4 linked regions of the Homo sapiens genome follow. The protein of the gene in region 1 purifies or fractionates together with the protein of each later gene. This does not show direct contact. Each region holds a gene or a part of one and is shown in the gene's direction. Other genes may lie near its edges. The genes, in order: HACL2, THADA, GBA2 and INTS12.

Region 1 (7,924 bases):
AGCACTCTGCTGCAGGTACCCAGTCCTTGGGGGCCAGTGGGGGCCTAGGGGGGCTTGAAGGGCTCATGCGATAACCCTGCCACACCTCTGTCTTTGCCAGAACCGGGGTGCGCTCCAGGCTGTTGATCAGCTGTCCCTTTTCCGGCCACTCTGTAAGTTTTGTGTGTCTGTGCGGAGGGTGCGGGACATTGTGCCCACCCTGAGGGCCGCGATGGCTGCCGCCCAGTCGGGCACCCCAGGTAGGTGGAGGATGGTGATGCTGAGCAGTGCTGGGGCCGAGGGGCTGGGGACATGTTATGGACTCAGCGTCCTCCCTGTCCCTGCAGGTCCGGTGTTTGTGGAGCTGCCCGTTGACGTGCTGTACCCCTACTTCATGGTCCAGAAGGAGATGGTGCCAGCCAAGCCACCCAAGGGCCTCGTGGGCCGAGTGGTCTCCTGGTGAATAGCCCCACCCCTGCCATTCCCTCCTTTATCCCCCGTTCTCTCCTGCAGCTTCCAGCCCACACCCATCCTCCTTTGATTCACATGTGGACTGGGAGGAGACAGCTGGGGGGAGAGCATTCCAGGTAGAAGGAACAGCATGTGCAAAGGTCCTGAGGCAGGAATGAACTGGGTGGGTAGGGAAAGCAAGGCGGCCCTCGTGGAGGCAGCAAAGGGGAGAGGCTCAGGACAGCCCTCCTCCTCCTCCTTTTCCCTTTCTTCTCCTCCTCCATCATCTCTTCTTCCTCCTCTTCCTCCTCCCTCTTCCTTCCTCTTCTCCTCCCTTTCCCCCACCACCTTTCCCATCGTCCTCTCCGTTTTCCTCCTCCTAAAGGATGATCCTTGAACCTCGGAAGGGAGGTTCATTCTTACATTTACAGAGGAGGAAGCTCAGAAAGGTGAAGTCACTTGCCCAAAGTCACACAGCTAAGAAGTGGCAGAGCCCAGGCCGGGTGCGGTGGCTCTCACTTGTAATCCCAGCACATTGGGAGGCCGAGGTGGGCAGATCACGAGGTCAGGAGATCGAGACCATCCTGGCTAACATGGTGAAACCCCATCTCTACTAAAAATACAAAAAAAAAAAAAATTAGCCGGGCGTGGTGGCGGGCGCCTGTAGTCCCAGCTACTTGGGAGGCTGCGGCAGGAGAATGGCGTGAACCCAGGAGGTGGAGCTTGCAGTGAGCCAAGATCGTGCTACTGCACTCCAGCCTGGGTGACAGAGCAAGACTCCGTCTCAAAAAAAAAAAAAAAAGTGGCAGAGCCCAGACTCGAGCCCTCTCCTTCCTCCTCCTTTCCTTCCCTCACATCTTTGTCCTTTTCTTTCTTTTTTTTTTTTTTTGAAACAGATTCTTCGTTCTGTTGCCTAGGCTTGAGTGCAGTGGCGTGATCTCGGCTCACTGCAACCTCCGCCTCCCCCTGGGTTCAAGTGATTTTCCTGCCTCAGCCTTCTGAGTAGCTGGGACTACAGGCGCCCGCCACCACACCTGGCTAATACTTGTATTTTTAGTAGAGACGAGGTTTCATCATGTTGGCCAGGCTGGTCTTGAACTCTTAACCTCAAGTGATCCACCCTCCTCGGCCTCTCAAACATTACAGACATGAGCCACTGCGCCTGGCCTCTTCTCTTCTTCTTCTTCCTTTCCTTTCTTCTCCTCCTCCTCTTCCTCTTCTTCCTCCTTCTCTCCCTTCCCCTCAGTCCCTTCCCTTTGCCTGTCCTTGGCCCTTCCTTTCCATACATTTAGCGAGCGGCAGCCATGTGCCAGGTTCCAGGACAGGCACGGGGCATCATCAGTGGACAAGGTAGTCAGGCTCCTGTACTCCGGATGTGTGTGAAGCGCCTGAGGGTCAGCTCAGGCAGTAGTGATTTTGTTCTATGGCCTCTTTATTTTTTTTGAGACGGAGTCTCGCTTTGTCCCCCAGGTTGGAGCGCAGTAGTGCGATCTTGGCTCACTGCAACCTCCACCTCCCGGGTTCAAGTGATTCTCCTGCCTCAGCCCCCGGAGTAGCTGGGAATACAGGTGCAGTCCACCATACCCAGCTAATTTTTGTATTTTTAGTAGAGATGAGGTTTCACCATTTTGGTCATATAGCCTCATTCTTAATGCACTTTGCCCCCTGGCTTCCCAGTCAGTCCCTCCCCTTGTTCTCCTTGCCCCTCTCTCTTGGGCTGCCTCTCACAAGGCTATCTCTTATCTTGCCTTTTTTGTTTTGTTTTGTTTTGAGACAGGGCCTCACTCTATCACCCAGGCTGGAGTGCAGTGGTATGATCATAGCTCACCACAGCCTTGAACTCCTGGCCTCGAGCAATCCTCCTGCCTCAGCCTCCCTTGCCTTTTCTTTACTTGCGGGGCTTCCCACGGTTCCATCCTGGGCTGCTTCTGTGCTGTCTTGGCCTGTCCTTAACGGTGAAAGCAGAGGCTTCTGACTCTGAGCTCCGACTGTTTCCTGCCAATGCCCATGTGTCTGTCTTTCGCTGGATAGAGCGCCCCCTGAGGGGAGGGCTGGGCAGGATCTATCTTTGTGTCTCCAGGGCCCTGCACAGGTCCTTCAGGAAAGTTGGGGCCCTGGGGCCCAGTGAGCAAGGAGACCGAGAAGACCCTGTTTGAAGCAGGAGAGGACAGTGTTCAGAACTCCCATGCAAAGCGCCTCATGTCCTAAGTGGACAGATCCTTGAACCTGGGGAGGGAGGTTCATATTTACATTGACAGAGGTGGAAGCTCAGAAGGGTGAAGTCACTTGCCCTAAGTTGCACAGCTAGGAAGTGACAGAGCCAGGACTTGAGCTCACATCTGTTGGACCCACAGGCTTAATCCTGGCATGCTGAGCCTGCGTTCCTTGCTTCTGGGGGGCTACGTGGAGTTGGGGTGGACCCCAGAGGCTACCGAGGGCAAACAGGCAGTTGAAGACCTGGCCACTAGGGTTCGTCTGTCCCTGAGGTGTCACTCATCCACCCTGTCCCCATGCCACTTTGCTCCTGGCTTTTCTCCCGGCCCCTTTCCTTGCTCAGATCCTGGAATCCTTGTAGTTAGTTAATTCTGGCAACTTGGTTTCTTCCCCCTCCCTTTTGCAGGTATTTAGAGAATTACCTGGCCAACCTCTTTGCAGGAGCCTGGGAGCCTCAGCCCGAGGGACCGCTGCCCCTGGACATCCCCCAGGCTTCCCCGCAGCAGGTGAATTGCCTCTCTTTTGTGTCTGAGGACCCTACCCTCTCCCTGAGGGGAGAGGGCCCCCTGACCCTCTCCCTGAGTCAGTACTGGGGCCTTAATCTTGGGTGCTCATGGCGACTCAAGGGCGGCCCTTTGGCTGGACGCGGTGGCTCACAGCAGCAATCCCAACACTTAGGGAGGCCGAGGCAGGCGGATCACTTGAGGCCAGGAGTTCAAGACTAGCCTGGCCAACATGGTGAAACCCTGTCTCTACTGAAAATACAAAAGTTAGCCAGGCATGGTGGCACGCGCCTGTAATCCCAGCTACTCTGGAGGCTGAGGCGGGAGAATCGTTTGAACCTGGGAGGTGGAGGCTGCAGTGAGCTGAGATCATGCCATTACACTCTATCCTGGGCAACAGAGTGAAACTGTGTCTCAAAAAAATAAATAAATAAAAAGACAGCCCTTTGATCCCCACCTCTCGCTCCAGGTTCAGCGCTGTGTGGAGATCCTGAGCCGGGCCAAGAGGCCTCTGATGGTGCTGGGGAGTCAGGCCCTGCTCACCCCAACGTCTGCCGACAAGCTTCGGTGAGAAGCGCCAGCCCTGCCCTTGTTTTCACGTTCCCAGTCCCCAGTCCTCGGGTGCTCTTGGGGAGGCGGGAGGCCCCGGCCACACTGACCTCTGCTCTGCCTGGACTCCCAGGGCTGCCGTGGAGACCTTGGGTGTTCCCTGCTTCCTTGGAGGGATGGCACGGGGGCTGTTAGGCCGCAACCACCCCCTCCACATCCGGGAGAACCGCAGTGCGGCCCTGAAGAAGGCGGATGTCATTGTCCTAGCAGGTGGGCCTGAGCCTCTTCCTTTCCCTCCTTCCCCCAGGAACCCCCTCACCCTGTTACCCAGCTTCACACGAAGGAGGAGGAAGGTCTAGTGGGCACCTATTGTACTTGATACACATTTTCACATAAAGCGCTTTGAACCCAACCAGACGCATAATAGGTGTATCAGATAGCTACTGCCCTGTAACAACCATCCCCAAACTCAATGGCTAAAAATGCATTTCTGATTTCTCAAGATCCACCTATAAGGTAGGTGGTAGCTGTGGTTTTGGCTGGGCTCATTCATGAGTCTGCACTTGGGTTAGGCAGGAAGGCAGCTGTGCTGATCCAGGCTGGGCTTGCTCACCTGTATGGGGATTGGCTGGCCCTGCAGCTCGTCTGGGATGGCCTCAGCTGGGGTCATAGAGTTCTTCACCCCTGTCTCCATGGCCCCCTTGTTTCTCATCCTCCAGTAGGCTAGCCTGGGCTGGCCGACTTGGTGAAGGATGAGAAAACTATGGGGCTAGGAGAGTGCGGTTATTCAAGAGAGTGAGTGGAGGCTGTGTGGCTTCTTGAAGTAGAGTCTGCAGGAATGGGGGGTGGGGGTCCTGAATCATCTGGAGGTGTCTTCACTCAGAGGTCTTGCAATTGACGCCAGCTGTTGGAGGGGCTGTGGACTAGGGCAACTACACAGGTCTCTATGTGTGGCTCCGGTTTCCTCCCAGCATGATGGCCTCAGGGTAGTCAGACTTCTTAGACAGAGAGCACATTCCTTGGCCCCACCCAGGCCTCTAAAAGTGAACAAGGAAGAAACTGCATATCTTCCTTGTTGGGTGTCATGGTGTGTCACTTTCAAGGAAAGGGGACCTAGGCTGCACCTCTCTCCATGGGAGGCATGTCAAGGTGACCTTGTACAAATGGATGTAGGGTGGGAGATATTATGGCCATCTGGGAAAATATAACCTGCCTCTGCCCTATCCTGTTGGCCAAAGCATGTCATGAGGCCAGTCCCGATTCAGGGGGTGTGGGGAGCTGCAAGGTCACTGTAGGTGGCACAGGTGCAGGGAGACTCGGTGAGGAACAGGGACTCATTTGCATCCAGTCCACCACAGTGGATCAAGTAAGGTAGACGACATGGGGCCTCTGCCTACTGCATTCCTGTCCCCCACACCAGGAACTGTGTGTGACTTCCGCCTATCCTATGGCCGTGTCCTCAGCCACAGCAGCAAGATCATCATCGTCAATCGTAATCGGGAAGAGATGTTGCTCAACTCAGACATCTTCTGGAAGCCCCAGGAGGCTGTGCAGGGTGAGCCCCTTAATCCCCCCGTACACATATGTGCTCCTCCCAGTCCCTCTCCTCCTGGTTTCTGCTGCAGCTGGCTTGAGCCTGGTACAGTGATTGAGGCCCAGACCTTGCCCTAGGGGTAGCCAGTCAACCAGAGACAAATAGTTGGCTCTCAAACTGATGAATGCTTCTTTCTTTAAATTTTTTTTATTTTTATTTTTTAGAGACGAGGTCTCGCTCTGTCACCCAGGCTGGAATGCAGTAGTGCAATCACAGCTCACTGCACCCTCAAACTCCCAGGCTCAAAAGCAATCCTCCCACCTCAGCCTCCTGAGTAGCTGGGACTACAAGTATGCACCACCATGCCAGGCTAATTTGTTAATTTTTTTTTGTGGAATCAGCATCTCACTGTGTTGCCCAGGTTGGCGTGGAACTCCTGGCCTCAAGTGATCCTCCTGCCTCGGCCTCTCAAAAGTGCTGGGATTACAGACCAGAGCTACTGCGCCCGGCCTGATAGATGCTTCTGTAGGAACAAATGGTGGGGTGGACACAGAGGGAGGCTTGAAAACGTGCATGTGATCACGTTCCCTCCCACACTGCCCACTGCCCTCAGGACAGAGAGCACACTCGTTGGCCCCTTAGCCTGTCTTCCTGCCGTATCTCTCCCCTCCCCTTATTTTAGTCCCCTTGGACTTGAACTTGGTTCATCATTCTGAGGATGTTGACTCCCCTGCAGCCTAGGCGACAGGACACTCTTGTATTAAGCAGAGAAGTAGCACCGTTGCATCTGTGTTGGGAAGGTCCACTCAGCAGCCATGGACGGCAGGCCGGAAGGGGGCTGGGTGGAGGCCAGGGGGGCTGCTCAAAATGGCCAGGACAGAAGCGAGGAGGCCTGAACTGGAGATGAACAGCGGCAGAGCCTCACCTTCTCAGAGCCTCCATTTGATCATTTGAAAAATGGGGTGGTGAAAGATACATCACGGGGCTGTTTGTTAGTTCACTTCAGTAACGTTCGCTGTGCGCTTCCACGTGCCTGGATTTGAGAGATGTGCTTGGTGGATGTAGCTCTTTTCATTGAGTGTTTCCCAGGCAGAAGGAGGTGGAGGGAGGGGACGAGGCCAGCTTGGGTTTGTCACCTGCCTTGTGCTCCTTAACCCTTGTTTCTTGGGCCTTGTCTTCCCTTTTCACCTGGGCTGCCCTCCCCTGGTTCTGGCAGGTTCTGGGGTGTTTCACCTGTTTTTTTTCTAGGAGCACCCCTGGCCTGCTTCCCGTCTGCCTGCTCGGATGCTGCTGCTGGCTTCCTGCTGTTTTGAGGCCTCTGATGCTGGAAGAACAGGAGGAAGCCAGCTCCCCACAGCTGTGTCCTCTTCCTTCCCCAGGAGATGTGGGTTCCTTCGTGCTGAAGTTAGTGGAGGGCCTTCAGGGCCAGACCTGGGCCCCAGACTGGGTGGAGGAGCTGCGGGAAGCCGACCGGCAGAAGGAGCAGACCTTTCGGTGGGGCCTGGGTGGAGTGGATGTGGGAAGGGGGTTCCCGGCAGACCCTGCTGCCAACCCTGGTGACCTTCGCTGTCCTGTCGCAGGGAGAAGGCAGCGATGCCTGTGGCCCAGCACCTGAACCCAGTGCAGGTGCTGCAGCTGGTGGAGGAAACGCTACCTGACAACTCAATTCTGGTGGTGGATGGCGGGGACTTCGTGGGCACTGCTGCCCATCTGGTACAGCCCCGCGGCCCCCTGCGCTGGCTCGATCCTGGTAAGGAAGGGCCCCCGCCTGGGGCAGTGGGCACCATCCATCAGGACGCCTTCACACCCACCTGCTCTTGGTCCTCTTAGGGGCCTTTGGGACTCTGGGAGTTGGTGCAGGATTTGCACTTGGGGCCAAGCTGTGCCGGCCAGATGCTGAGGTGAGGCACTGGAGTTGGGAGACTTGCTGCTCTCTAGGTCCTGATCCACCCTAACCATCCTGGGTCCCCTCCCGACTAGGTCTGGTGCCTGTTTGGGGACGGAGCTTTTGGCTACAGCCTCATCGAATTTGATACATTCGTCAGACACAAGGTGACTGGGCTGGCCTGAGGGAAGCTTAGGGCCTGGGGTTCTGGGAGATGTCACCAGGGGTGGGCTGAGGTGGGGAGGGAGCCTCCTCTCTGGCAGAGGCCCTATCCCTGTCTCTGTCCTCTGGCTGGCCAAGCCATGGGGCTGAAGGCTGCGGCCTGCCTTCATCATCTTCCTGTAGATCCCAGTGATGGCCTTGGTAGGGAATGATGCTGGCTGGACACAGATTTCTCGGGAGCAGGTGCCCTCTCTGGGCAGCAACGTGGCCTGTGGCCTGGCCTACACTGGTGAGGGGGCCTCAGCGAGGTTGGGAGGACAGGAGGCTGTTTCAGTCCCAGCTGGGCTTGTGTTCCTCTCCTGGGCTGGCTGCATGTGCGGTGGGCTGAGTCCTTGCCACTATCCGACTTAATCTCTTCTTTTAGATTATCACAAGGCAGCCATGGGTCTGGGGGCCCGGGGCTTGCTGCTCTCACGGGAGAACGAGGATCAGGTGGTCAAGGTGCTGCACGATGCCCAGCAGCAGTGCCGAGACGGCCACCCGGTTGTGGTCAACATCCTCATTGGGAGGACGGACTTCCGCGATGGCTCCATTGCTGTATAGGGCCTTGTGGGTCAGGACGCTTGGCTGCCTTCCTGCCCCTGGACT
Region 2 (7,929 bases), on another chromosome or scaffold:
CAAGTGATTCTCCTGCTTCAGCCTCCCAAGTAGCTGGGATTACAGGCATGCACCACCATGCCTGGCTAATTTTGTATTTTTTAGTAGAGACAGGGTTTCTCCATATTGGTCAGGCTGGTCTCAAACTCCTGACCTCAGGTGATCTGCCCGCCTTGGCCTCCCAAAGTGCTGAGATTACAGGTGTGAGCCACTGTGCCTGGCCCTTCTTTTGAGAATTGCCCATTCATATCCTTAGCCCTTTTTGATGGAATTGTTTGTTTTTTTCTTACTGATTTGTTTGAGTTCATTGTAGATTCCGGATATTAGTCCTTTGTCAGATTTATAGATTGTGAAGATTTTCTCCCACTCTGTGGGTTACCTGTTTACTCTGCTGACTGTTCTTTGCCGTGCAAAAGCTCTTTACTTTAACTAAGTCCCAACTATTTATCTCTGTTTTTATTGTATTTGCTTTTGAGTTCTTGGTCATGAAATCCTTGCCTAAGCCAACGTCAGGGTTTTTCCAATGTTATCTTCTAGAGTTTTTAGAGTGTCAGGTCTTAGATTTAAATCCTTAACCCATCTTGAGTTGATTTTTGTATAAGGTGAGAGATGAGGATTCAGTTTCATTCTCCTATGTGTGACTAGCCAATTATCTCAGCATCTTTTGTTGAAAAGGGTGTCCTTTCCCAACTTTAGGTTTTTGTTTGCTTTGTCGAAGCTCAGTTGGCCATAAGTATTTGGGTTTATTTCTGGGTTCTCTATTCTGTTCCATTGGTCTATGTGCCTATTTTTATACCAGTACTATGCTGTTTCGGTGACTATGGCCTTATAGCATAGTTTGAAATCAGGTAGTGTGATGCCTCCAGATTTGTTATTTCTGCTTAGTCTTGCTTTGGCTATGCGGGCTCTTTTTTTGTTCCATATGAATTTTAGCATTGTTTTTTCTAATTCTGTGAGGAATAATGGTGGTATTTCGATGGGGATTGCATTGGATTTGTAGATTGCTTTTGGCAGTATACTTCCTCTAGGTGTTACCATTCCATTTATCTGCCCCTTGCGTACTAGAAGGACTAGAAGGAGTTGCCTCTGCTTGATCTTGCCAATTCCTCTCTTCCCAGTCTCTTTTAAACCCATTCAAATCTGCTCCAAGTAAACTTTGGCAACTTCATCCTTCTAGGTGCTCAGGCCAGAAACTTTGGACTCATCTTTGACTCTTCATTTCTTCATACCCATATTCTATCCTTCAGAAAAAAATCCTGTTAGCTCTGCTTTCAAATTATATCCAAAACCTGTCCACTTCCCGCTCTCCACTGCTACCACCCTGGTCAGTGCCACCAGCATCCTGCCTGCCTAGTTTACCACAACAGCCTCACTGGGCTTCCTGCAGGCTCTACAGTCTTTTATTTTTTTTTCTGTTTTGTGACGGAGTCTCACTCTGCAGCTCAAGCTGGAGTGCAGTGGCGCAATGCTAGCTCACTGCAACCTCTGCCTCTGGGGCTCAAGCAATTCTCGTGCCTCAGCCTCCCGAGTAGCTGCGACTACAGGCACACAACATCATGCCCAGCTAATTTTTTTTTTGCATTTTTGTAGAGACGAGGTTTCACCATGTTCCCCAGGGTGGTCTTGAACTTCTGAGCTCAGGTGATCCACCCGCCTCAGCCTCCCAAAGCGTTGGGATTACAGGCGTGAGCCACCGCGTCCGACCTACAGTCTCTTCTTAACAAAGTAGCTCCAGTGATTATTTTGAAATGTACATTAGATGTTATTATTCTTTTGCTCAAAATCACTCCTCATTTCATGAAAGAGTCCATGAAATAATGTGAAAGCCTTATATAATCCAAAGCCCCTTGTCCCACTCCTTAGTATTTACCTTGCTTGGCTCCGGCCACTCTTGCCTCCTTGCTATTCTCCCAGCAGGCAAGCCCTGCCCTGGAAACTTTGTACTGGCTGTTCCCTCTGTATGGAAGGTTTCCCCTTCACCAAGTGTCTATGTCTCTTGGAAATCTTTACTCAGTGAGGCCTACCCTGATTACCCTATTTAAAGTTGCAATGTACCTCCCCTATACTCTCACTTTCCATTCCCCTATTTTTTCCATGGCGGTGTTAAATTGAACTAAATACCGCCTGAGAAAGCCTCTGCACTTCCATATTTGAGTCCTTGTGGATGAACCATAACCTAACTTAGTAGGTAGACAAGACTGAAAGCCTAATTTAGGAGTGTGCTTCTGTAACAATAGCTGAGTTTCAGCCAATCCCAGCAGCCATACTTCAACTATTCATACAATGCTTACTGTTCAAACTGTGTTCAGGTAAGGCAAATGCCAAGCTGTAACCCATCCAGCTGCTTCCGTACCTCACTTGCTTTTTGTACATCACTTTCCTTTCTTTGTCTGTAAATGTGCTCTGACCACGAGGCATCCCTGGAGTCTCTCTGAATCTGCTATGATTCTGGAGACTGCCCGATTTGAGAATCATTTTTCCCCTTGCTCAATTAAACCCTGTTAAGTTTAATTTGTCTGAAGTTTTAACAGTAGCTTCACCTTTCAACATATGTTTATTATGTTTGCTCCCTAGCCCACCTCTCGCTGTGCAGGGTGAAGAGTTGCAGTGTCTGCCAACAAAAAAGGGGTTCGGACCCACTGAGTTATATAATTAGTAGGTCTGAAACAATATACATATTTTAAAAAACATAAAACTTAAAAATGGTTAAAATGGTAAATTTTGCTGTGTATTTTACCATAATTTAGAAAAAAAGGAAATAAAATCTCACAGCTCCTGTAAAGTAGCATTTCAAGAAATTTTTACTTCAGTTATGTGTGAGTACTTCTACGTCCACAGTTTCAAAGTCTGCAATGTATTTCTTACTATGTCAGGGTCAAAAATACCAGAAAAAATTATGGTGGAGAACCGTCTGCACACACTCACCAGCTGACATGCACAACATAGTTCACAGCAGCAATGTTTAGAACAAAAACTGGAAATAATGCACATGTTAAGAGGCAGCAGGATGGATACATAATGAAGTATATTAAACAATGGAAAATTACGGTCCGGGCGCCATGGCTCACGCCTGTAATCCCAGCACTTTTGGAGACCGAGGCGGGCGAATCACGAGGTCAGGAGTTCAAGACCAGCATGAGCAACATGGTGAAACCCCGTCTCCACTAAAAAATACAAAAATTAGCTGAGCGTGGTGGCGCGCGCCTGTAATCCCGGTTACTTAGGAGGCTGAGGCAGGAGAATCACTTGAACCCGGGAGGCAGAGTTTGCAGTGAGCCGAGATCGCGCCACTGCACTCCAGCCTGGGCGAAGAGCACTACAGCCACCTGTAGGTGAATATGAAAAGCAATGCTGAAAGAAGCAAATTGCTGGAGAATACATACGCAATTCCAAAAGCTTCAAAATTGAACGAAACAAGATAGTGATACATACATTATGTGGTAAAGCTATAAAGAAAACCAAGGCAAGCTGATATAAAAAATTCAGAAAATAATTATTAAAAACTTAAGTCATTAACGTTTAGAGAACTGAAATGTCTCTATTTTCCAAATTAATACTCCTGATAATAGCATCAGGTCTTTCCTGATCTTGCCCACTGTCGCAGCTCCCAGTGACACCCCGTTATTGTATTTATTTTTCAAGGACTGAACCATCTGACAATTTGTATGTGCTGCGTAATACATGTATCCTCAGTAGGGGATAGCTTTCAAGGCTAGCGCTTGGCGACGCTCTGACAGTAGAGTTCATTATCTATTGAATGAATATATGCGCTTTGGCACACGTTGGTTCAGCACTACTCATTTTAGTCCGAATCCTTCTCGTGGCTTCCGTTCAGTCGCCGCCCAAACCCCTGCCCCATCTCGCAGGCTCTAAACTCCCTGGACTCGTTCCCGAGTCCCAGACGTAGTTTTCTCCTAGACTCTGCACTGGGCCAACAGAGTGGGAGAAAGGTGGAAGGTCTGGATTGGGAGAAAAGCGCTTCCCAGGCGTCCAAGCATGTGAAGAGAATGAGGTCTTTTCATTCAACAAGAGACCGTTGAATGAAGGCCCCTCAGCAACAAGGCCCGTCAGCCCTAACGCCATGAGGAACGCGCGGCGCTGACGGTACAGTGGCTGGTTAACTAAACCGGATTGCTACCGGCCACCCCGGTGACGTCACGACCTCCTCGAACTCCTGATTGGAGGAGCTGCGTTTGGTCAATTCTCGCGATGACTCCTCCAGGTTACCCCTCTCTCCCTCCCTTTGCCCTGACCCGGTAGTCGACCGTGGACCGCGCTGCGAGCCTCGGAGACGCCGTAGAAGGAGACCTGCTTCCGGGACTGGACCAGGCGCCTGCGACTCTTCTCAGACGCCGACGTGCACGAGGTTTGGCTCCCAGGTGTCCTGCCTGCCAGACCCGCGGTAGCTCGGCTCGGCCAGTTTTGCTAGGGCTGCCTGGCGAGCCACACCAATTCCCATCCTTTGGTATCGCCAGGATTCGGCGGCTGTGAAACTGATTTCCGGTCGCTAAGGTCTCCATGGAGACAGCACTTTAACCACTTTCTCCCACTGTCATTCCTCGACTCCACGTGGTTCAGAAATCGCCCAGAGAATGTTTGTGGGAGTCAGCCAGGAAGGTGTAGAGTGAAGCAGCGTTCTAAAGGGAAGCAGTAAGTGGGACCTAGGAGGAGTGTAATTTACTGGGCACCTTCTGGCCTTGCGGTAGACACGGGATTTACCCCCTTGGGGACCCTGGTTCTTCAGGACACACGTTTAGGCATCATTTGAGCAGGCATAATTACCGAGTCTGCTTTTGTGTAGCCCTCAGAATTGCAAGAGCAAATCCTCCTGCAAACTTGCTTACCTTTCACCAGAGAATAGTCTCCCTAGTTAGGTTTCCCAGTCTCTTCTGGCTTTGTACGATGGTCACTTTCTTAGGAAGCGTGCCTCTATTCCTCTAGATCTGACTATCCCTTTACAAATTATTCTGTTGTCGACACTTTCCTAGCTGCGTCCATTTTTGGTTAAGTGGTTGCTCACCTGCCATTACTGTATGGATTTCTTACTTCCCAAACAGACCATAGGTTCTTAAGATGTAGAATGTCACTTAGATGTAGAATGCATTTTAGGTACCAGATAGTCCACCTTCCTGCCCTTAAAGACATATATCCCTTCTAGAACATCTCTGACAAATGTTTGTTAATTAATTTGTTTATTCGTGAAGTGTTTGTTAAACACCTACTATGTGCCAGGCACTGGTTTGGAAATTGAGACTTGAAACATGAACAAAATAGATTAAAGTTGCTGCCTTCATTCAGTTTGCTACTAGGTGAGACAGACAATATACAAATTTACAAGTTAGGGTAATTTCTGGTACTAGTAAGTGCTATGAAGAAAATTAACGGAAATGGTGTCTACGTGTGTTGTATTGGTGAGATTTTAGATAGAGTGGTCATGGAAGGCTTTTAGAAGGTAATGTTGCAGCAGAAACATGAATGGTGAGAAGGAGTCAGTCTTGCAAAGATGTGGAATGAACATTAAGGGGCAGAGATACTGAGAAGTGTAAAGCCTCTTAGGTGGGAATAAGAGCATCAGGAAGTACAAAGCTCTTGAGATGGTGAAGAGGAGATTGGTTTGAGATGAAGAGTGGAGGAAGGCAGGGTCAGATTATTTAGGGCCTTGAAGGGCAAAATCTCAAGTATTTATTTATTTATTTATTTATTTATTTATTTGAGATGGAGTTTCGCTCTTGTCTCCCAGGCTGGAGTGCAGTGGCACGATCTCGGCTCACTGCAACCTCTGCCTCCTGGGTTCAAGCCATTCTCCTGCCTCAGCCTCCGGAGTAGCTGGGGTTATAGGCGCCTGCCACCACACCCGGCTAATTTTTGTATTTTTAGTTAGTGCAGACGGGGTTTCACCATGTTGGCCAGGCTGGTCTTGAACTCCTGACTTCAGGAGATCCACCCGCCTCGGCCTCCCAAAGTGCTGGGATTACAGGCACGAGCCCCCACTCCTGGCCTCAAGTTTGAATTTTATTCTAAGTGTATTTAGAAACCCTTGGAAAGTTTTAAGGAAGAGAGTAAGTAATTCAATTTGATGAGAGTTTTTTTTAAAGAGATTGCTTTGATGATTGTAAACAGAATGGGCTCTTTGGAGGTAAGTGTAGAAGTCAGGAGACCAGTTAGGGAGCTGTTTCAGGAGTCCAAGAGAAAATATTCAGTCATCTTCTCTTTGAATATTCCTGGTGTTGGAAAATTTCTTTGTTTAAAAGGTAGCCCAGTCCTTAGTGGGACCATAGAGCTTTTCCTTTGTATTGATCTGGAATCTGTTTCCCTGTAGCTTGTACTGACTTTTACTAATCTAATAGCAAGACAAGAAGTCTAAGGCTGGGCGCGGTGGCTCACGCCTGTAATCCCAGCACTTTGGGGGGCCGAGGTGGGTGGATCACGAGGTCAGGAGATCGAGACCATCCTGGCTAACATGATGAAACCCCGTCTCTACTAAAAATAGAAAAAATTAGCCGGGCGTGGTGGCGGGCGCCTGTAGTCCCAGCTACTCGGGAGGCTGAGGCAGGAGAATGGCCTGAACCCAGGAGGCTGAGCTTGCAGTGAGCGCAGATCGCGCCACTGCACTCCAGCATGGGCGAAGGAGCAAGACTCCGTCTCAAAAAAAAAAAAAAAAAAAAAGTCTGTAGTAGACAAATAAATCTATTCCCTTTTTCTCCAAAACAGTCTAGCAGCTGTTTTAAGGCTCTTGTTCTGTTGACTTTTTCTCCAGGCCAAACACCTTTGGTTAACTGAGCTGTTCTCTGAAGGAGGTGCTCTCTAGGTCCTTCAGAAATAGTTCCATTGTTTGTTATGGCTCCTTAGAGTATGGCCGCCAGCGCTGTACCTAATGCTCTACATGTCACCTGGCCTGTTTGAATAAAATCATGCACTCTGATATGGCTGACTTCTGTGGTTTTTGGCAGTCATCTTGGGCTGTTGAGCTGTTTCAAACCACGTTTTGCCTCTCCAGCCTCTCTTTCTGTGTTTTTTTCCCCTAAACTAAATGCAGCCCTTTGTATTTATTTCTGTTTCATCTTGGTAAATTTCATATTGCTCGTTATTCCAGTTTATTGACCTGTTTTTATTCCTGATTCCATCATTCAACATGTCCTTCCAGATTTATTTTATACATGTACTACATTATAGTCTCTAATATTTGCATCATAAATACTGCTAAAGATGCTAACTGCATCAAGAGAAGAGCCCTATGACATTTCCCTAGCAACTTCTTTCCAGATGGCATGGTACTATTAGTGTGTAGTTGTGTAGTCTCTGAGTTGGGTTGTTTAGCCTGTTATGAACCCGTTGATTTGTTAAGTATCGATAAAAGCAAACTCAAGAGAATAGCATTAAAAAAATATTTTTTTTCATTTTTGCAGAAATCAGGACACGGTAGTACCTCCTCTTAGTCTAATGAGTCACTGAGGTTAGTTTGAAGTATTTTATCTTTGGAAAAACTATCCCAGTTTTTTTGTGTGTATGTTCACTAAAAGGAAAGTTTGCTGTATTTTAAAATACAAAGACTGAGTCATAGTAGGTAAAATAACTTCAGTCAGTAATAAGCTTCAGCTTAAAACATTTTTCTTCTTCAAATCAGAAATTCTTAGACAGTGATTCTCATTCTGGAGCAGTTTTGCTCCCCAGGGGACACTTCACAGTGTTTGGAGACATATTTTGGTTGTCAGAACTTGGGAGGGAGGAGGGTGCCACTGGCATCTAGTGGGTAGAGATGGGGATGCATGAAACATAATGCATAGGATGATACTGTTCAACAAAGAATGAACCCAGCCAAAAATCATAGTGCTGAGGTTGAGAAACCTTACATTAATGCCTTAAAGTCTTCTTTCTTGCAGTGACTACTATTAATTCTATTTAAAATGGGTGTAAAGAAGAAGAAAGAAATGCAAGTTGCTGCGCTGACCA
Region 3 (8,013 bases), on another chromosome or scaffold:
ACTGTGCTGACTCCTTCCCCTATCCTTGGTTCCCCAGGTCCCAGCATCCCATCGACTTCCCGGCTGGGTGTGAGGTACGTCAGGAGGCAGGAACCTGCCAGTTCTCCTTGGTGCAAAAATCTGACCCTCGGCTGCCCTGCAAAGGGGGAGGGCCTGACCCAGAATGGGGCTCAGCCAACACCCCTGTTCCTGGGGCTCCTGCTCCCCACTCCAGCTAAACTCAACTGATCATCCATCTGCTGACTGCTCACTGCTGCTGCCACTTCCAGGGAAACCACTAGCAGCTGCCAATGTATTCTGAACAAATAAATTAATGCTATAGCTGAAAGCCCGACTCTCACTGTCCACGACATTGGACCCCAGGTGGAAAAAGTGGGTCCCATTAGAGTCCAGGTGCTGAGTTCTCAGTATCCGGAAGGAACTAGCACCAGGGTGGGCCAGTTTCAGATGGTTATGGTGCTGGTGCTGGGGCCTGGGGCAGCATATGAGGCCAGGGTGGGGCTAGTAGGCAGCACCTTGATGGGCAGGTCCCAGCTGAAGGTGTCTACAGGTACTTGCTCAGGTCCTGTCCAGGTGGTAGGTTCGGGCTGTTCCACAGGGGGTAGGAGTACCAATCCTGGTTCTCGGGACGTTACAAATTCAAAATGCAATCTCCACTTCAAGGACACTATGGAAGAAAAAGATTAAGGTAGAAGCATCAGAAGCTAGCAGGAGTAAAAGCCAATGACAGGATATAGTTAGTGAATGAGAAGAAAACAATCTGTGTTCAGGAAGACAGGGAAAAGTCACAGGGCAGGGAGCTGTGATTAAGGGTTTTTCTGAAGCAATGGGTACTACCACAGATGTGAGCTGAAGATAGCAGTATTAAGTACCTAATAACCTAAGAGTGAGGCAGTCAAGTCTAGGTAGCATGAAGTAATCAAAAATCAGTGTATCACAGGGTCCTAGTAGGTAGGTGTGGGGAAGGAGTTCTATCAAGCTGTTAGGAGTTTAGGGGTCAGTGCATCTAAGAAACAGGAAGAGGTTGAAGGTCTGAGAAACTGTTCCGGGTCAGAGGCTAGACGTGGGTATGTCTGGGAGTGTGTATAAGGAATCAGGATCCATTACACCCTCCCTTAGCACAGCATTTTACTGTCCCCCTCTCCCTTCTCCAGTAACAGTGAGGGTCTCACCAATGGCTGTACAGAAGCCTGGGGTGGAGCTGAGAGGGATTGGGAGGGAGAAGCTGGTTCTAGTTGTATGTAGGCAGGATTCCTGGTGCCGGGCGTGAGTCACATGTGACACAGAGGGGACACCCCCTGCCCCACGTCGCCGCTGGTACTCAGGCTGTACACGCTCCTCGGTCTGTAAGCTGACTGAAAACTGGGAGCAAGAGACAGGTGTGTGCTAACAGGAAGTGCTGTCTGTAGGTGAGAGGACAGCCCAACCTCAAGCTGTTTTACAAAGGGACCCTGGATGACCCCACTATCCCCTTCTACATGCCACCCCTCTTTATACAGGCCTTCCACCCTAGCCCTTCAACCCCAGCACCCCAGCAGGTAAGAAGCTCTGCTCCCTTCTTACCTGCAAACAAGCTACGGTTCCTTCCCCTAAGTTTAAGGTCCCCACCACGTCCTCGCCAAGTCTGTACACAGATTTGAAGATGCCAAACGTCCCAACTTTCCCTCGGCCATCACTGATATTGTATAGATCTGGGGAGAATAGGACACTATAAGCCTGGAGTCTACATACTGGATAACGTCTAGGACTGGGCACCACAGGCCAAAAGATGGGGCTTTTCTTTAAAATTGGAGGTGTCAGGTATCAGTGGATCCACAGAAGTGTGTGGTGGTTAGGAGACTGTCTCTGAGATGGGAAAACAATGAGGGGAAGGATGGGGTAGGACAATTCTGAAAGAATTCTCACGGAGGCTGCGGCAGGATGTGGCAGCCATTAGGCGTTCCCCAGCCAGCTCAGCTAGCCATGAATCTTTCTTCCCACCTTCATCCTCCTCCAAGAATGGACTGGATGGGGCTACAGCCTCATCCTGGGGAAACCGGACATCCTGAAGGCCTAGAGAAAGAATGAGTGGAGAGGTAATGCTGAGAGGGAACGGAGATGAGAGTAGAGGTTAGGGTTTTAGATTCTAACATGAGATGGCTAAAGGTAAGGGGTGCCAGGGCTGAGGTTTACATCTCTATCTCCAGAACCCTCCCTCCCTTCCCAACTCCCTAGCACTGTCACTGAGACCAGGAAGTTTCCCTGCAGTCCCTCTTGCAAGCCCTCTAAGACAATTTCTGCTTTGGCATCGCCCTTCCCCAGCCCTTCCCTCCAGGAGCCCTTGCTTACCAGTCAGCACAAGAACCCTCAGAGGGACTCTGAGTAAAGTGATAGGGGAGTTGACACGCTGGCAGCCAATGGTCAGTTTGTAGACGTACTTGACTGACTGACCCCGAAAGGAGGGTGGTCCCTCTATGGGCAGCACTTCACTGTAGGAGTCTGGTTGGGAAGTAGTTGTCAGGACAGCCAGAGGCACCAGAGGAGTCCTCCCTCCAGGAGACTTAGAAGGCAATTCAGGGATGGGGACAATCACTCACATGATTTGGACTCTCCAGGATCAAGCCTCAGGTCACAGAATAGAATTTTCGGTGGAGTAGAAAGGATACACTGGCCCCTCTCACCTGAAAAAGGTAAAAATGACTAATTTAATGACCCATTGTCCAGTACTGAACAAGACTAGCACGGCAAGTGGAGATAGTGAAAGGCTGCCAGGCCCTCCGTCCCTGCTGTGAAATGGGAATAGTCTTCTACCCCTAAAGCAATAGTCATGCTCCCCAACATCCCCAGCATGACAGGGACTATAAGAACAAGAACAATTAACAACTTCACCCATGGGTGACAATGCCTCCACACACACCCTCCGCACCCCCCCTCTCCCAGGCAAATGCCCCTCTCTAACCTCGGTGTGGCAGAAAGACAGTCTGGCTGTCGGGCTGGACATCTGGCTGACTAGAGTCAGGAGGAGGCAGTGCTACTCGACTCTCACTGGCATGGAACTGGCAGTGGATTTGGGCACTGGCCCAGGCCAGGGCCTCACTGTGGGAAAAGGAAAAGGAGGCATCAGAGGTAGTTCCTGACCTCACAAATGCTTTCCCAAGCTCCCTATCACACCATCTTAACCAACAAGGTTAGATGGCTGTCCTAGTGATCAGGAAATCCACAATCCCAAAGAGAAACCATTAAATAAAGAGTAGCAGACTGTGCGTAAAAAGGGGAACGGGGGAGGGGAAGGAAAGCGTACAGCTATGTCATCCACATCTTCTGTTAAAGAGCCCTCTCCTACAATGACAGCACAGTGAGCAAGAGGAGGTGGTGTCGCTACAGGACAACCTGAGCTCTGCCTCAGCCCCAGAGATAATCTGGCTTCTTCCCAGAAGGGCCACCACCTTCAGTGCCAGCATCCCCACCTGGATGCAGAAGTGGCCGTGGGCGGAAGGGGGTTGGTGACGGTCACTACACACTCCAGCGCCTCCCCAGCCAAAAATACAGGACCCCGGCTGAGCTCTGCTACCACTTCAATCATGGCAGCTCCGGAATCAGATCTAGAAGGAAACAAGGCGGGGCGGAGGTCAGCACCTTGACAGGGAGGGGCGTTGCGGTGAGCACCTAGGGCTGAGGGCTGAGGACAGGGGTGGTCAGCACCGTGGTGCCCGAGGGAGCTCCTGGATATAGGAGGGGTAGGCGGGTGGGAGGGAGGCGACTGAAGACTCAGTACTGCCCAGGGGGAGGACATCGCTCTGGGCCCTAGACCCCAGCCCCTGTGCGACGGGTTCTTCTCCCTGGGCACCCCCGCGGAGTTCCCAAACTGGCCTCCGCTCCCCCTTTCCTCAAAGTTCCACGTCCCAGCCCAAGATCACCGCCGCTAGTCACCTCGCATAGTCGACACTAGGGATCGGCACCCCTAGGCCTCATCTGCCCGCCCCTCAGGGACCTGGCTAGGTACGCGGCGGCGGCGGCGGCGGCGGCGTCCGCTGGGCGGTAGAGGCGGGACTTCCCTTCGGTCCCCCACCCTCCGCGGAGTCCCTTCCGGCCGGAAGCGCCCGGCAGGCCAGACCGGAAAGGGCTCGGGTCATCCCGGCGCCCAGGGTCACCTTCCCACGGGCTGGCACCTGGGCGCGGGCGCTGCCCCGGAGCCGGCCGGCGGGACCTGGCGCCCAATCCTGGGGGACCCGGTGCCGTGGCCCAGGGGCCGGGCCGAGGTCCCGGGGGCGGTGCCTTGCGGGCCCGTCCCGGGGCGGTGCCTGGTGGGCTGGCCCCGCGGCTCCTCCCCTCTCTGCGGGCCCAGTCGCCCTTTGGCCGGGCGAGCTAATCGTCGGCTCAATGACGACGAGGCCCGACCCTTCCCGTCCAGGACCTACAGAGACAACCGAAGGAGAGCCCAAGGCGGCTTCTTTGCTGTCGCCGCCCCCACTGAAGCAAGAGCTCCCCGGCTCCACTGAAACACCAGCTCATTTAAGCTTTCCCCAACGCCCGGCCCTCCGGGACGATACCTAACAACGACCGGCGCCCGCATCTGGAATAGGCTGGCGAGATACTTAGTATCCGAGGGCTCGGGACTTGGCGCCATCGAGGTCATGGGGACCCAGGATCCAGGGAACATGGGAACCGGCGTCCCAGCCTCGGAGCAGATAAGCTGTGCCAAAGAGGATCCACAAGTTTATTGCCCTGAAGAGACTGGCGGCACCAAGGATGTGCAGGTTACAGACTGTAAGAGTCCCGAAGACAGCCGACCCCCAAAAGAGACGGACTGCTGCAATCCGGAGGACTCTGGGCAGCTGATGGTTTCCTATGAGGGTAAAGCTATGGGCTACCAGGTGCCTCCCTTTGGCTGGCGCATCTGTCTGGCTCATGAGTTTACAGAGAAGAGGAAACCCTTTCAAGCTAACAACGTCTCCCTAAGCAACATGATAAAGCATATAGGCATGGGCTTGAGGTGAGTAGACCCCATTGCCTAGAATGCCTTTGGCTTCACTTTGTTCCAGCTCAAAACTTCTAGCAGAGGTGGGAAAGGGCAAGAAAGCAGTTGGGCTTCTTGTCTGAGTGAAGCGGTCCCTATCCCTGGCATATTTTAGGCCTGTGGTTTTGGACCGTGAGACCAGGTCACATCTCTTTGCAACACCCTTCCCTCCCAGTGTTTTGTCTTTTCAGAAGGAAAGGGTAGGAACATTTGGTCATGCAATCAGCCTTTCCCATTCAGGCTCTTCTCACATACTGGTTTCCAATGACTTCCCTTTGGGATTAGCTATACTTTGTGGCAAGGTAGGAAAGGATAATCTGGCTGCTGTGATACTAACACAATGTTGTTTTATTTGGGGGTGGGGGGGTCTCAACCCCTTATTTCCCACAAGCAGCTGGGGCATTCTCTGTACCTCATTAGACACACTGTTAGAGTCCCAACACTACTGCTTCTTTCTTCAAGCTTTAGCTCCAGGGAGTAGGTAAGAAGAGCCTCCCTGCCCTCACCTCTGAAGTGATGAGAAGGTGCTGTCATTCTGTTCTGGGATAGAGAGCTCTTGATATTAAGTCATTTATCAGAGAGGCACTGCCATAGATGTAGAACCCATCTAGATCCCCACTGAGTTCAAAGACTAGTGATGAGGAGCCAGACCCATTAACAGGAACAGGTGGATGTGAGGACAGAAAGCATCACCCTGAGGTCATCCTGACTCAGTCTACACAATACACACAGAACTGTGGAGGGAGGCATAAAGCTTGGGAAACCCTGCCCTTACAGTTTCTAGAGTAGGAGACCCTTCATTTCCCCAGTCAGTGCTGTGGGGCTGTGATGGGGAGATCAGTTATCTAACCCTAGCCCTGGGGAGTGGGAAGGGCCTGATGCTGCCTGCACATCTGGCTTTGTTGGTGCCTGTGGGTAGCCTGTAGCAGAGAAGAATCATCCCTCCAGGCTGCTTCTGGAATCAATTCAGTCCAAGTTTGACCCCAAAAGTTTTTGCATCAAAATAGGATCTAGTGTACATAGAGAAGTACACTGAGTTGCATGTGGTAGGAACAATGAGATCAAGAAAAGATGGGCATCCTAGCCTCTTAGCCCTTAAATATGAACTGAGTCATAGAGGCCTGAAGCTGTGCTCAACCCCCTGGACCCTGGCTCCCCATTCCAGGATAGAGTGGGGGGTACTGATACAAGGCTTTTGGAATAGGATGAGTTCCTATGAGGAGAAAGCACAGGTGAGACAAGAATTCTAAGTGATAACTCTTGAGTTGAGGTTGAAATTGTGGAGAAGGCCAAATAGGTCAGGAATGGCCAGCTACCATATTAAGGGAGTAAGAGAGCTCCTAAGATGGAGCTGAACTGTGGGCACTCTGACCAGGAGCTCTAGCAAGACAGAATTCTCTGGGTCTTACCTTCGTAAGAACTCAATTTCAATTGTTCTCCCTTCCAGCCAGAGTCCACTCATTCAATAAATATTTATTGAGTGCTTGTTCCATGCCAGATAGTCCTTTGTTCTGTCTGTCCTCATAGATTGCAGTTACTCTCCCTGGTTGCCCTAATCCTCGGCCACACCCTCCCTCTACCAGTCCTTTCTGGTCTCTAGTTTCAAAGTCCGGTTTTCTCTAAGCTGGCAGAGAGGATTCTCTGCCTTCCTGTCATCCCATCCTTTGTCTTCCCTCTTCTTTCCACCCCTAGAATGTGCTGTCCCTTTTTATTTTATTATTATTTTTTTTTTGAGACAGTCTTGCTCTTGTCACCCAGGCTGGAGTACAATGGTGCAATCTCAGCTCAGTGCAACCTCCGTCTCCTGGGTTCAAGCGATTCTCCTGCCTCAGCCTCCTGAGTAGCTGGGATTGCAGGTGCCTGCCACCACAGCTGGCTAATGTTTTTGTATTTTTAGTAGAGACGGGGTTTCACCACATTGGCCAGGCTGGTCTTGAACTCCTGACCTCACGTGATCCGCCCACCTCGGCCTCTCAAAGTGCTGGGATTACAGGTGTGAGCCACCGTGCCTGGCCGCTGTCCCTATTCATTAATCACATTTCTTCTCCTCTGCTCCAGTCTGTTATCTCTCTTGTGCCCCATCATTTGTATGTTCATTCATCTGTAAAATTGGCAAATATGCATTGACTGCAGACCATATGTCCTACCCTGTGCTTGGACCTGAGGGTAATATTCAGCTAGTCTTTGTCATTGTCCCTTTCCCCAAGGAACTTAAAAGTATGTCAGCCTCACATGAGGAACATTGAAATAACAAGGCAATGTCTGATTAGGAATTGAGATAACAGTTTGTATATATGAGTAATAATCATACCTGTACTTTATGGCTTTCTTATCTATTATGTCATTTGATCTTTCAACCATTTCATTAGATAGCTAGAGCAGGTGGTATCCCCATTTTGTAGATGAGGAAACTGGGACTTAGGGGTTACTTACCCAATTATTTGGTTAGAAGTGGTGTGACTGAACAGTAGGCATAATGTGGCAGTAGGCAGGAGAGTGGAAATGGGAAAGAGTCTGGCAGGGCAGGGGCTACTTAGTGAGGACCCATCTGGAATGAGAATTTGTAGGAAATAAGATTAGAAGATAGGCTGGGACAGATGTCAGAGCCTTGAAAACAGAATCGTTTGCCTATTGAAAACAGCCTCAATCATTTGCCTCTTGGATATAGGGCTGTACCAAGCCCAGGAAAATGTTGGGATTTTTTGAAGGCTTTACCAAGAGCAAAATCAGAAAGCTTCACAGTTTAAATGTTGAATTTAAAAAAAAAAAAAAAAAAGGCTTGAGAGGAAATGTCCAGAAATAAATATAAACACTGATTGTCTATGGGTGAGATTATTTTTTTCCCCCTTTCACCTTTCATAATTAGAAAGAAAAATGATCATTTTAAAAAGAAGAAAGGCCAGAAGCGGTAGCTCACGCCTCTAATCCCAGCACTTTGGGAGGCCGAGGCGGGCGGATCACCTGAGGTCAGGAGTTCAAGACCAGCCTGGCTAACATGGTGAAACCCCATCTCTACT
Region 4 (7,924 bases), on another chromosome or scaffold:
GGCTGGTCTTGAACTCCTGACTTCAAATGATCCGCCTGCCTTGGCCTCCCAAAGTGCTGGGATTACAGGCATGAGCCAGCACACCTGGCCCCTGAAATAACTTTAAATTATGGCATTTAAAAAAGTAGTGTAATGTTTAATGGTATGTTTTCTTAGGCAAATGATGGTGGCATCTGGCAATCAATTAGTAGAATGTCAGGAGTGCCATAATCTCTACCACCGAGATTGTCATAAACCCCAGGTGACAGACAAGGAAGCGAATGACCCTCGCCTGGTGTGGTATTGTGCCCGATGTACCAGACAAATGAAAAGAATGGTAGGAATCATATTTTTCTTTATTTTAAACAGTCTGTCAATGTTTTTGTTGGTATGTGCTTTCAAAACAAAGATTTGAATATTTAAGATATTGAAAAAATAAATAATATAAGCTGATTATTTATTTATATGTATAGTATGTACATGTGATTAATATTTCTATTGCTAAAGACCAGACCATGTTATGTGCATTTTTCTCTTTTTAGTTTTATCTAATTCTAATATAGATAAAACAAGATTGGTGACACACAAATTATGAATATTCCTTACTAGTCTGTCAATGTATTGACAAACATTTTAAAATACCATGCAGCACTGAGAAGTGGTGAGATACAAAGCCCCACTCTTTGTTGAGATCTGGTAAGGAAATATAGAAAATTTCTGAGTGAGCTTAAACCACCGCATGGATAAGATGTGTACAGAGGCGATATTTATATGTGCATATCTGTCTTTCCAGCTGCATTTCTCTGTTGCTTAGTCTTTCCTTCTCATTGTCCTCAAGTGACCATTACCTCATTCTTCCTATGTACTTTCTCTTTTTACTGTTGACTAACATACCTGCCTTTAATATCATAGTGAAATATCTTTTCATTTGTTATATTGGATAGTTTTCTAACTTTTATTCACTTATAAAATAGATAAATGATAAATGAATTTCATAATTTTTCTTTTAAAGAAAACAAGAAATTGCCATAATGTCTTATTCTCCACCTCTCCCTCCCACTTCCATCTCTCTTCCCCTGCCTTAAATTAGTGATTCTCAATTGCAGAGTTCTCATGTCTGTTAATCAAATGAATTTCTATATAAATTTGTCTAACCAATATATCTTTTAAAGGTCAGAAGTACTTAGTTAAAAGTAAAAACTCGGGATACCCATTTTACTTTTTAATCAGTTAAATCAGAAATAGGAAGTGTTTTTATTTATTCCTATGAAATAAAAAGTAGTAAATGAAAAGTGTGTATATCAATAGTGTGTATATTTCTTACTTGTAACAGGAAATTTCTATGACAAGTTACAATCTGTTCTGCTCAGTTTGGTTTTTATTTAATTTATTATTTAAACTAGCCCTCCAGGATCTCAAGTGAAATTATTACAGATGAGCAATGCATTCCAGAGCATTGATAAGAAACCACTAAGAATTGGAAATTGTCAAAAGAAACAAATTGTGACAATAATCTATCTTTCTTTAGTATGTACTCAACTGTTTCATTATTATTATCACTTTAGCTCCTTTAATATCTAAAGTAAGCACTGTTCTTCCCCCAAGTTTTTTCTCCTCCATTTTTTCTGATTTATGTCAAATCTATGTTTATGGTTCTAACCCTCTTCCTGGGTGAGCTTCTATAGCTAACTAGATAGTCTATAGATACTTTAAGGTCAATATATTTAAAAGTGAAAGTTGTTCTATTATCCAGTTTTTTTTTTCTGCAATTGCCTGAATTAGAAAACATCTTTGATGCCTCTTTTAATTCCATATCCCATTGTTTACCAGATTTGCTAATTCTACCTCTTATATGTCTCTGAAATCTATTCATTTCTCTTTTATTACCCTGTTCCACAAATCCATTACTTGTCTATTGCAATAGCCACTTAATAAATCTCCTTGCCTCCTATCAATCCACTTTGCTTACTATCATTAGAATTCTTCTAAAATATTTACCTACTTATATATGCCCAGTGGCTCTCAATTACTTATATAATGAGATTATACTCATTAGGATGCATATATGGACCTTCTCTTTTTGACCCGACTCTACCTTACAGCCCTCTCTCTCACTGCTTCAGCATACACATTCATACACTCTGGCCACTCTGACACAGACTAAGTGTGTCATTCCCTGAATATGTGGAGAACTTTCATGTTCCCATATTTTCTGCTTCTCAGCTTCTTCTCTTCATCTGGGATACTGTTTATTCTTTTATCTGCTTTGCAAATAATATCTAATTTATCAGTAAGAGCATGTATTCATTGGCATAGCACTTAAGCAGAGCTCAAGACTGGACACATTCTACATTCTGTTGTTCTTAAGTTAAATAAAATGAAGCAAATGTAATTTTTTTCTTTTTCTGAGACAGGGTCTCACTCTGTTTTCTAGGCTGGAGTGCAGTAGCATGACCATGGCTCACTGCAGCCTTGACCTCCCAGGCTCAAGCAATCCTCCCACCTCAGCCTCCCAAGTAGCTGGGACTACAGGCATGTGCCACCAGGCCTAGCTAATTTTTTTTTTATTTTTTGTAGAGATGGAGTCTTGCTACATTGCCAGGGCTGGTCTCGAACTCCTGACCTCAAGTGATCCTCCTGCCTCGGCCTCCCAAAGTGCTGGGATTATAGGCATGAGCCACCATGCCAGGCTAAATGCAGATTAGTACCAGAAATCAACAGTGAATCTGGTCTGTGTGTCCAGAAGTCAAAGTACTAAATGGGGAGTCATGGCTAATATTATAACATGACTAGAATACACCAAGAGCAAATGTGGGGAAATACCAAAAGACATGATCTGAAGTGAGCCTAAAGATCAGAATCCAGGAAATGTAAGGTTTAATGAGATAATTTTGGAACAGTGGGGATTCTAAATACAGTCATTCTAACTATAATTGCTTTGAGTGAGATTCTCATATGTGCATTGGTTATTGTTCCAAGGTATCTCAAAGATATTATAAATAGGACCTGATATCCCCTTTCTCCTCAAACAGATTCCTCAAACTGGGGCAAGTTCTGCGGTACACATCATTGTAGGAAGACCTAGTTAAGAATGTTGTGATCGTGTATGGCAGGGTCCAAGGTTATTCTTCAGTTCTATAGTTTTCTCTCTACGCAGTAGTGGAGTTTTTCCCCAGCTTCAGGTGAGAGACTCATATCACTTATTGCAGTGGTTCTCAATCTAAGGTAGTAACACACTCCTATTTTGCAGCATTTAGAAATAGGTGGGGTTTTTAGTACTGCCATTCTGGCAGTTAGTGCCTTAGTGGAGAATTTTATACATTTTGCAATGTTTGAAGCAGTCATCCAATGAAAATTTTAGTACCTTTGTTGAACAAAACTGAATCAGTAATTATATCCTAGTTCCCTAAACTAGTATTACCAGTAAAGGACAAAGGGTTGTGGGTATTTCTTACTCAGTTTCTAAGATGGCTGGATAAAACAGGGAAGGCAGAAGATTGAAACATGATCTCACAGGCAGAAGTACTTCCTGGGGCTTCATCATAATTAGTCTTTATCTGTTAAAACATACAAGTTAGGTGGGTCCTCAGAGTCTAACCTCAGGAGTGCTAGATGTGGGTGGAAGGCAGTGTTAAGATTGAAAGCCATGGTTTTGGAGCCATATGTTTCTGTTTTACTGTGAGGGATGCATTCTCGTAACATGGTTTTGCAATGAAGGATAAGATGGCTCTGCTTTCCTGCTAGTACCAGTAATCAAGTAATCAACAGTGAATTACTTCGAACATTCTTAATATTCTTGATCTAATTGTTGCTTTATAAGTGATGTTGAAGGTAGGTGTACTTTGATGTGGAAGGTATGTAGTATAAAAAGTGATACGAATTGAGATTTAAGGACCCAAACTATATAGTATGGCAAACAGTAGCCCAAGATTACACAAGAAGGCCCAAACAAGAGCAAAATAGGCCAAATTCTGGCTTCCAGAAATGGTGACAAATTGTTAATAAATTCCCTGGTATAGTACTGTATGGGCTTATGAAGATTATCAAAGACTATGGAATGGCTGGCGGGAAGCATCTTTCCCCGTTCAGTATGCATGGATTTTTCTGGATTCAGTTTGATTATCCTTTGTAAATAATAATGATGAATAAACAGTAACTTTTTGTTAGCACTCAACATTTTCCAGACACTATGCTAAACTCTTACATAATCATAATTCATCCTCATAACCCACCTTTGAAACAAATGCTATTACCATTTTACAGATGAAGAGAATGAGGCTTTTAGAGATTCACATATTTTGCCTGAGGTAATGTATCTAGAAAAATAGTTGCTGTTTTTTTTTCTGTTGTTGTTTTTTTGAGATGGAGTTTTGCTCTTGTTGCCCAGGCTGGAGGGCAGTGGTGCGATCTCGGCTCACTGCAACCTCCACCTAATGGGTTCAAGCAATTCTCCTGCCTCAACCTCCTGAGTAGCTGGAATTACAGGCACCCGCCACCATGCCCAGCTAATTTCTGTATTTTTAGTAGAGACGGGGTTTCACCATGTGGGCCAGGCTGTTCTGGCTGTTCGCAAACTCCTGACCTCAAGTGAACCACCCGCCTCAGCCTCCCAAAGTGCTGGGATTACAGGCGTGAGCCACTGCACCCAGCCAGTTGCTGGGTTTTAATCCTAACTGTGTTTGACTCTGAAAATTACTCTTAAACATGGCACATAACCATTTATAAACAGTTATAATTATCTACCTAGAAAACACTAAAAAATAAACTCAAAAATGATTAGAGTTTATAGGAAAATTTAGTCAAGTACCTAGTTATAAAATAAAGGAAAAAATCAGTTATTGGTCAAAATAAAACTGAAGATGCTTATAAAATAATAGTGGGTGAAAATTCTTTCATAACATAGAAATTTGTATTTATTAACTTTCTCTAAAGATTTAGTGTGCCTAGTTTTGCAATGTGGAAAAACCTCAAAAAGTTTAATCATTTATCAATAGTTTTTTTCTCCCTGTTCTATATTTAAAACCATATAAATGATCTGAGCTGTGTTTTAATTTGCCCTCAGCAACTGAGGAGTCGACTTATGCCTAGACCCCAAGAAGAAAACTCTTGTGTATTTGACAAACCCCAATGAGAAATAAATGTACTTCATCATGAGTAAAGCTAACGGTTACATATAGTTTGTGATTTTGCTCTTTAAAAAACAATTTTATCTTGTTAAAATGGTATTTAACTAACCCTCTTCTGTATTATTTCTAAAGCTTAATATTATCTTTACTGTTTAGAAACTAATACAATCTGTAAGACCATTAATATGATAATAATTTGTCAAAGAGCATATATATTCATTATCATCACACTATTTTTTAAAATGTTCAACTGTATTTCATTTCAGTGATGAGTCCTGTGAGGGATTATTATCTTTCTGTATATTCAGTTAAGATTTTGTATCTGATTTAATCCACTGATTTTTGCAGGCTCAAAAAACTCAGAAACCACCGCAGAAACCAGCCCCTGCAGTTGTTTCTGTAACTCCAGCTGTCAAAGATCCATTGGTTAAGAAACCAGAAACTAAACTGAAACAAGAGACAACTTTTCTAGCGTTTAAGAGAACAGAAGTCAAGGTATAGTAGATTCTATTTTTATCTAAGATTATATCTTAAAGTTTAGTTGACTAAAAAATAGTTGCTTGATAAAAAATTTAATGAGAAACTTTATATACTAAATGGCTATATTTTAGAAATTAAGACTTTACTACTATTATATTAGGTAGAAAGGGAACATTTATATCATTAATTAATCTCTAACTCTGTTGTTTTTCTTTTTATCACAAATACGAACAGTCTATGATCATTCCAAAATGACATTCTTTACCATTCTCATCTGGTTAGATATTTGTCTTCAATCAGAAATCTGGTTTAAATTCAGGCGAGGTGCCATGACTCACACCTATAGTCCCAGCACTTTGGGAGGCCAAGGCGGGTGGATTACCTGAGGTCAGGAGTTTGAGACCAGCCTGGCCAACATGATGAAACCCCATCTCTACTAAAAATACAAAAATTAGCCAGGGGTGGTGATGGGCACCTGTAATTCCCAGGCATAGTGGCGGTGCCTGTGATCAGCTACTTGGGAGGCTGAGGCAGGAGAATCGCTTGAACCCCAGAGGCGAAGTTTGCAGTGAGCTGAGATAGCACCATTGCACTCCAGCCTGGGTGACAAGAGCGAAACTGCAACTCAAAAAAAGAAAAAGAAATCTGGTTTAAATTCAAAATACCTCTGCCCTCAGTAGCAACAATTTTGCTCCCCACACTACTTGAGCAGATTGGCCTTGTAATTTTTTTTTCTCCCTTCTTATTGGCTGTTGAAGGAGTTTTCTTGCTTTGTCTTGTTTTGTTTCTTTATAATAAACTTTCAATGTTATCTACCTCTTATACCAAGGGACCACATTGTCTAGTGAGGGTATCACCTTTCTCATTCCTAAGTTTGCATCCTTGAAATCATACTACATTATTTCTTAATATCTTGGCCTTTTTATATCATGGAAAAAAATAATTTTCTAATCTAATTTCATAACAAAAAGAATACTTTTACTGAGGTACACATTCCAATATTAAGCATAGCACTAAATATGGAAGAAAAAATATTAAAAAAAAAATAGCCTCAAATTCTCAAAGATTGACCTGAGAAAACTCTAAAGTTATTGCCTTATCTAAGTGACTGTAAGTAGTAAGCTTCATACCCTTGATGTGATGAAAAAGAATATGAATACGAAATACTTTTAAAAACTTATTGATAATTATATTTGGAGATTATTTTTCATTTTAATTTGCCAGGGAAGATTTGCTATCCAAGGCATATCCATTATTGATTTGTCATATAGGAACTTGGTGAATTGGAATAGAAGTAAGAATAACCAGTTTATTGAAAGTAATTAGAGTTGCTATATTCTGCATATAATCACTTTTTAGTAGATTTTTAGATTAATCTGTTACTACTAAAGTTTATTTTTAGAAAATTCAACATGAAATCATTTTATGGCAAACAAATTAAAGACTGCTGTCATATTTGTTTTGATTAAGAGGTTTTGTGTTTCTTTAATAAAAAATTCACTTTTTATAAAAGTGAATAAATTTATACTATAAAAAAATTGTTCCCATTCACATATAAAAAGCAAATGTCTTTTCTAACTTGCCCATCTAGCAAATAGGCAAGAAAATATTTATAGTTAAAAACTTGAGAAATTTGTTTTCTACACTGAAATAGTAAGAAATCACTTGGTCTCCATTGTTTGTGTTATATTACTTCTATGTGTCCTGATAGTATTATAAACCATCTGTCATCCTGTTGAAAAGCAATACTAAGCAACAGCAAGCCATTAAAATGAAATGCCAGACACATAGAACATGCTTTCTTGCTTGTACTTCCTAAGTGTTGGTCTTTTAATTACTAAAGGTGGGTTTTCTTTTGTGAAGTTTTTTGAAAGATCATTTAACCATATGGCAGACAGTTTTATGTTTAATAGCAAGAAAAGGAAAAAAAATTAGGTCTTTCATAACTGAAAATTAAAGGTTTACTTCTTGACTAACTTTTTCTCTCATTGCTGGTATATATTCCTCTAGGAATAAATGGTTTATGTAGTTTTTCTTCTCTGGATAACTTCATAAGATAGTTAATATGTTACTGTAAGAAAACTTCCTATCAATTTTCAGAGTATGTGGACAAATATCTGGATTCCTTCTCTTATAAATCGAATATCTCAGAACTCTATTTTTGTTACTTTTCACATTGATTAAAAATGTATGCATGCAGACAATATTGAAGGCTACCTTGATTTCAAGAGCTAAAAATGTTTTATCAACTATTTCAGAGTAAAGTTCTAAATTATAACTGGATATATTTTAGGTATAATAACTACCATTTTTTAAGTAGGATGTTATTTTGTAAAATT

Evidence for each region.
Region 2: the proteins of HACL2 (region 1) and THADA purify together in Homo sapiens (co-immunoprecipitation; 3 studies listed by BioGRID and IntAct, with this or other methods). This does not show direct contact.
Region 3: the proteins of HACL2 (region 1) and GBA2 purify together in Homo sapiens (co-immunoprecipitation; 4 studies listed by BioGRID and IntAct, with this or other methods). This does not show direct contact.
Region 4: the proteins of HACL2 (region 1) and INTS12 purify together in Homo sapiens (co-immunoprecipitation; 3 studies listed by BioGRID and IntAct, with this or other methods). This does not show direct contact.

What each region holds. Positions count from the first base shown.
Region 1 is NC_000019.10:15,115,207-15,123,130, reverse strand, and holds part of HACL2 (2-hydroxyacyl-CoA lyase 2), read left to right. Parts: coding exon 1-15; intron 16-100; coding exon 101-239; intron 240-326; coding exon 327-438; intron 439-3,049; coding exon 3,050-3,149; intron 3,150-3,615; coding exon 3,616-3,713; intron 3,714-3,828; coding exon 3,829-3,965; intron 3,966-5,115; coding exon 5,116-5,250; intron 5,251-6,608; coding exon 6,609-6,723; intron 6,724-6,809; coding exon 6,810-6,979; intron 6,980-7,059; coding exon 7,060-7,130; intron 7,131-7,209; coding exon 7,210-7,281; intron 7,282-7,459; coding exon 7,460-7,565; intron 7,566-7,700; coding exon 7,701-7,879; 3' UTR 7,880-7,924. UniProt on the Homo sapiens protein: Endoplasmic reticulum 2-OH acyl-CoA lyase involved in the cleavage (C1 removal) reaction in the fatty acid alpha-oxydation in a thiamine pyrophosphate (TPP)-dependent manner. Involved in the phytosphingosine degradation pathway.
Region 2 is NC_000002.12:43,592,347-43,600,275, reverse strand, and holds the start of THADA (tRNA (32-2'-O)-methyltransferase regulator THADA), read left to right. Parts: upstream 1-4,237; 5' UTR 4,238-4,345; exon of another isoform or gene 4,346-4,629; intron 4,630-7,385; exon of another isoform or gene 7,386-7,432; intron 7,433-7,859; 5' UTR 7,860-7,883; coding exon 7,884-7,929. UniProt on the Homo sapiens protein: Together with methyltransferase FTSJ1, methylates the 2'-O-ribose of nucleotides at position 32 of the anticodon loop of substrate tRNAs.
Region 3 is NC_000009.12:35,745,305-35,753,317, reverse strand, and holds the start of GBA2 (non-lysosomal glucosylceramidase), read left to right. Parts: upstream 1-4,089; 5' UTR 4,090-4,613; coding exon 4,614-4,972; intron 4,973-8,013. Other genes in the region: MSMP (prostate-associated microseminoprotein precursor), read left to right, coding at 38-218; RGP1 (RAB6A-GEF complex partner protein 2), read right to left, coding at 444-667, 1,173-1,362, 1,564-1,691, 1,906-2,052, 2,329-2,478, 2,577-2,660, 2,939-3,075, 3,447-3,562. UniProt on the Homo sapiens protein: Non-lysosomal glucosylceramidase that catalyzes the hydrolysis of glucosylceramides/GlcCers (such as beta-D-glucosyl-(1<->1')-N-acylsphing-4-enine) to free glucose and ceramides (such as N-acylsphing-4-enine).
Region 4 is NC_000004.12:105,684,368-105,692,291, reverse strand, and holds part of INTS12 (integrator complex subunit 12), read left to right. Parts: intron 1-156; coding exon 157-316; intron 317-3,011; exon of another isoform or gene 3,012-3,161; intron 3,162-5,453; coding exon 5,454-5,600; intron 5,601-7,924. UniProt on the Homo sapiens protein: Component of the integrator complex, a multiprotein complex that terminates RNA polymerase II (Pol II) transcription in the promoter-proximal region of genes.